2 separate regions of the Homo sapiens genome follow, and region 1 is linked to region 2. Evidence: fine-mapped expression QTL. A gene starts in region 2. The other region holds a variant in brackets. All regions are shown on one strand. Distances are from middle to middle.

Evidence for each region.
Region 1: its variant is fine-mapped to the expression of KIAA0930 in prefrontal cortex (ROSMAP, PIP 0.95).

The regions. Positions count from the first base shown.
Region 1 is chr22:45,206,184-45,209,200 of GRCh38, forward strand. All of the region lies in intron 2 of KIAA0930, which reads right to left. Among named protein-coding and RNA genes, the nearest start is that of MIR1249, 6.7 kb to the left of the region's middle. The variant AT/A (reference allele first, on the strand shown) is at 1,302.
Region 2 is chr22:45,239,925-45,242,639 of GRCh38, forward strand. KIAA0930 reads right to left here and starts at 970. Exons shown (of 10, transcript NM_001009880.2): 1 at 716-970. The coding sequence starts at 779. RefSeq lists silencers at 544-633, 784-843, 1,004-1,063, 1,094-1,293.

The DNA.
Region 1 (3,017 bases), 34 kb before region 2:
TTTTAAAACTTTTTGTAGATGTGGCGTTTCGCCATGTTGTCCAGGCTGGTCTTGAACTCCTGGGCTCAGGTGATCCTCCTGCCTCGACCTCCCAAAGTACTGGGATTACAGGTGTGAGCCACCATGCCCGGCCAGAACTCCAATTCTTGCTCCCCAGTTCTCTAGCGACGGGAGATGGGACCCAGGGGCCATCCATTCTCCTCACTAAGCCTCAGTTTCTTCATCTGTACAATGGACTAAGGGCATCTTCCCCTCAAAGTTGTCATAATGATTTAAAGAGCTCATATTTGCTAAGTGGCATCAATGATAATAGTGACACCTACTGAGCTCTTAGTGGACGGCGGGGTCTGGGCTACACATTTTACAAATTATTAATCCTTTTAAAGCAACCCTGCAATGCAGGTATCATTAGCCCCATGTTAACAGATCAGAGTCAAATTTACTGAAGATCAATAATAAATACATATCAGAGAGAAACCAAAGCATGTCTACACCTCTCCTGGGAGACTGGCTTCCAATTTTTTTTTTTTTTTGAGACAGAATCTCACTCCATCCGTCACCCAGGCTACAGTGCAACACATCTTGGCTCACTGCAGTCTCCGCCTCCTGGATTCTAATGATTCTCCTGCCTCAGCCTCCTGAGTAGCTGGGATTACAGGCACGTGCCACCACACCTGTCTACTTTTTGTATTTTTGGTAGAGACAGGATTTCACCATGTTGGCCAGGCTGGTCTCGAACTCCTGACCTCAGGTGATCTGCCCACCTCGGCCTCCTAAAGTGCTGGGATTACAAGCATGGGCCACCGTGCCCGGCCTCAATTTATTTCTTATTTATTGTTTTGAGACGGAGTCTCGCTCTGTCACCCGGGCTGGAGTACAGTGGCACAATCTTGGCTCACTGCAACCTCTACCTCCTGGGTTCATGTGATTCTCCTGCCCCAGCCTCCCAAGTAGCTGGGATTACAGGTGTCTGCCACCACACCTGGCTAATTTTTTTCTGTATTTTTAATAGAGAGGGGGTTTCACCATGTTGGCCAGGCTGATCTCGAACTCCTGACCTCAAGTGATCTACCCACCTCGGCCTCCCAAAGTGCAGGGATTACAGGCATGAGCCACTGCACCCGGCCTCAATTTATTTCTTATTTTTTTATTTTTTTGAGATGAAGTCTTGCTTTGTCACCCGGGCTGGAGTACAGTGGCACAATCTTGGCTCACTGCAACCTCTACCTCCTGGGTTCACGTGATTCTCCTGCCCCAGCCTCCCAAGTACCTGGGATTATAGGCGTCTGCCACCACACGTA[AT/A]TTTTTTTTTTTTTTTTTAATAGAGACGGGGTTTCACCATGTTGGCCAAGCTGATCTCAAACTCCTGACCTCAAGTGATCTACCCACCTCGGCCTCCCAAAGTGCAGGGATTACAGGCGTGAGCCACCGCGCCCAGCCTGGCTTTCAATTTTGAAGCAGCTGTGCTGACTGGGGGCCTCTGGTCCCGGTCCTGGGTGCTCTCACTGACTCGGGCTCCGAGGGGCTGGGCACTGCTGGGCCCTCTTGCAGGTGCACAGGCCTGCACCCCCCAAAGGCAGAGCTGGGATCTATGGAAAGAGGTGCAAGAGGCCAACCTTGCCTAGGAGCGAGAAACAGACGTCCCCGGGTCGGGGGGCCCCACTTCCACCGCCTGTATGGTTCTGCAGTCACCCCGAGCCCCTGAGCTGAGAGTCCTGGGGTTCACAAGACTCTGCTGTTCCTCCTGGTCTCGCTTCATTGACCTGTTCATTTGCTTTTGCTCAGCAAAGCGCTGTGGACTCAGTGAATGAAAGGCTCGGGGGCACGATCACACGGCTGTTCGGGGCAGCACCACAGCACAGGCAGGCGAAAGAGCAGGTTCCCCATCAGAAAGGTGTCCGTGTGCGCACCAAAGCCAGGCCCAAGAGGACACTGGGAGCTGCCCGGTACCCACTGACAGGAGGGTGGCCAGGCCGCCATGGTACACTCTGCAGGCATTACACAGCAGTGAGACCAGATTACAACCACCTGTGTCAACAGGCATGACTCACAAACATGACATGCGGAGAAAGAAGCCTGAAACAACATATACTGCCCGATTCCAATGTATGAGCTGTGAGAACAGGCAGAACCACCGACTCCACACACATGAGCTGTGAGAACAGGCAGAACCACCGACTCCACATGCACGAGCTGTAAGAACAGGTAGAACCCGCCAACTCCACACACACGAGCTGTGAGAACAGGCAGAACCCAACTCCACACGCAGGAGCTGTGAGAACAGGCAGAACCACCGACTCCACACGCACGAGCTGTAAGAACAGGCAGAACCCACCGACTCCACATGCAGGAGCTGTGAGAACAGGCAGAACCCGCCCGGGAAGTTTGAGGAGACAGAGCAGCAGCTGCCCAGGGGGAGGTTGAGCCCTGGGGTGGGGTGAAGGGGCCTCGGTGTTCTCATCACACTCTGTATCTGGGGGCTGGTGAAACCAGGTGTTCAGTCTAAGAAGAATCAAACTGTGTACACGTCTGTGTTTTTCTGTATAGACGTTATATTGAAAACAATCTACTAAAAAGGAAAAAGTGAGACTGGGGACAGGGCTTCGCCGCTGGCAAACTGTGTGACCCCAGGAAGCTTCCTCCCCGTCTCTGAGCTTTGGTTTTCTGAGTGGGTGTGAAGGTGATCGGCACCTTAGGATCCTGAGGTGTCACGTGACCGTGAGACACAGGGCTCCGGCCACCAGCGCAGAGCCAGCAGCACACAGAGCCAGGTCCCCCTCCTGCCAAAGGCACACAATGGGCTGCCCAGGAACACAGAGCGTTTTGTCCAGGGCTGGAGGAAACAGAGGGCAGGGAATCCAGGACATCCCTCCCTGGGAAAGGCTGGACTGGGGATGTCCCTTGGGCCCTGGAGCACTCGGGGTTCCTGGCATCCTGTCCCCCTGACACTGCAGCTCCTGCCCATCCACGCTCCCCTGCTAGGTGCAGGAGGCCCGGCTGGTTGCTATGGCAACCGG
Region 2 (2,715 bases):
CCTCACTGGCTGGGAGACCCCACCCACACCTGCAGTCCCAGGCCCTTCCAAACAATACGAGGCACCCCCATCCCACGCCCCCCAGCAGATCCATGACTTAAAGCCCAGAATCACACCGAGAGGCAGCAGGCCCTGCCCCTCAGCCAAGCGGGCGGGTTCGGGGGGCCATTGCCCAACAGGTCCCTGGATACAGCTAAGGGATGAGAGGGGCCGGTGGGTGCGGAAAGACAAAGGCTTCGGGTAGCAGGAGACAGTGGCCAGGGCACGCTCGCAGCGAGGTCCACCCAGAGCCCAACGAGGGCCCGACCCTGCCGCGCTGGGCTAAGGGTGTACCCAGATCCCACGCCCACACTCCCTACCGCGGTGCTGAGGGCCCGGGGCGGGCTTCCTGGAGAAGGAAGAAGACCCGCAGAGACACGAAGAAGAAGGAGGAAGATGAGACAGACACCCGGACGGACTGACAGGGGGAGACGCCGAATGAGACCCGGGCACAGGGGTGCGGGGCGCTCGTCGGACGGAAAGCAGAGACAGACCCAGATGCAGGGACGGTGGGGGGGGGGCCATGGAGGAAGACAGGGTACCCAGGCAGACCCAGAGACCACGACACCCGCGCAGAGACAGAGATGCGCGGGGCGCACAGAAACACGGACGCGCAGAGGCGGCCCCGGAGACGCTCACCTCTCCCGGCCCGGCCTCGCCCCCGGGTCCCACTCACCGAGGCCGCAGACCTCGCGGCGCAGGCTAAGACGGCCGCGCTCCTCCGCTATGGCACGCAGCATGTGCTGCAGCGAGCGCTCCTCGGCCTCGGCGCCGCCCGCAGGCTCGGGGGCGGCGGCGGCGGGGAGGGCGGGCGGCCCGGCCCGCAGCCCGCCGCGAGCACCAAGGAAGCCACAGTCCGCCTCTGTGCGCGTCGCCGTCGCCGCCGCCGCCGCCACCACCCGCCAAACACAGCACCGGCGAGCGCACCTCCGCGCCGCCGCCGCCCGCGCGCCCCCGGCTCCGCTCGCCCCGCCCCGGCCCGGCCCGGCCCCGGTCCGGCCCCGCCCCTTCCCCGCCCCGGCCCCGCCCCTGTCCCCTCCCGCCCCGCCTCTGAACGGCCCGGACCCACCCCGGCTCCCTGGCCCCGCCCCCTGACCTCCCTTGCCCCGCCCACTTCCAAACGGCCAGTCTCCGCCAATCTTCGGATGCCCAGGACAGCCTCCCTCAAACCGCTCGCGGGGTCCCGCCTCCACCCAAGGTCCTAAACGCCCCACCAACGGGATCACGCCTCTGAGCCCCTCCCGCCGCCCCTTCAGGGCACCTCTCCCCTCCCCCGCTGCTACCCCACGGGATGTGTACTTTGTCACCCGCCCTGTGCGTTGCCACCTCCACCAAGTCCCCTCGGCTGACTTCTGGGAACTTCCTCCGCAGAACCCCTCAAGAGGTCACCTGCTCCCAGAAGGTGGTCTCCTGGGGGACACCGTGGCAAAGCCCTTCCGGCCCCCCTCCTCTGCACCTGGCACAGTGCAGAGTGTTGCGCCTCCATTTCCTCAGCTGCACCATGGGGGACCTTTCCCTGCCTTGCCTCCCCAACATGGGGGAGTGTTGATGAAGGGGGAGGTATGAGGTTAGCTGGGCGTGTCATCCTGATGAAGCCAGGTCTGGCCAGCATCCCTCCGTGTGCTAGTTGTGGCTGATACAGGAAGACACCGGAGAAGCAGCCAGTGGCCTCCCCAAACCTCACGCCTGGTGGTCCATTTCCAAGAACAGGGGGAGATGGAGAGACCAGCATTGATTTCCAGGTCTCTCCAAAGCTAAATCTACATCACTCCCTGCATTCACAGCCTGTGTGTGGACCCCAGACCCATCAAGGTCCCCCTTTCCCCTGTCTGGAGTCCTCTTCTCCCCATTCCTGTGTAACTTGCTTCCTTTGTGTCCCGAGTGTCACATCCTCAAAGAAACTCCCCTGACCGCCTTCCCTCCCTCTCTCTTCCCTTAGTCTGTTTCTCCTTCACAGGGTGACACTTACCTCCTCCCGACACATTGGATACCTATGGGTTCACTTGTTCTCTTCTCTACCGAGGGAGGGGCCTGTCTACTACACAGCTGTTGTCTCAGTACCCAGAACATTGCCTGGCACACATTAGATGCCCAATAAATAGATATGGGCTGCAGGCTGGGCACAGTGGCTCATGCCTGTAATCCCAACACTTTGGGAGGCCGAGGTAGGTGGATTGCCTGAGGTTAGGAGTTCCAGAACAGCCTGGCTAAAATGGTGAAACCCCATCTCTACTAAAAATACAAAAATTAGCCGGGCATGGTAGCACACATTTGTAATCCCAGCTACTCTGGAGGCTGAGGCAGGAGAATTGCTTGAACCTGGGAGGCGGAGGCTGCAGTGAGCCGAGATCCCGCCACTGCACTCCAAGCTGGGAGACAGAGCAAGACCCTGTCCCCCCCCAAAAAAAAAGAAAAGAAAAGAAAAAAAAATGTAGGCTGCATAAACGAAGAATGATGGAGAGGTCTGATGGGGACGCAGGGGTCTTCCTGGGAGGCACAGCAGGAAGGAGCCGTGGGGTTGGGCAGAGCCCCAGAAGGGAGATGGGATCTGGATCCTGCTTCAGGCCTCTGCCCCAGTTTTGTGCCACTGGCCCCTGAACTCTTCAGAGCAGAGCCACATCTGACCCCTCTGTGTCCCCAGTGCCAGGCCCAGGAGGGCTCTGTAGAAAGGTGAGC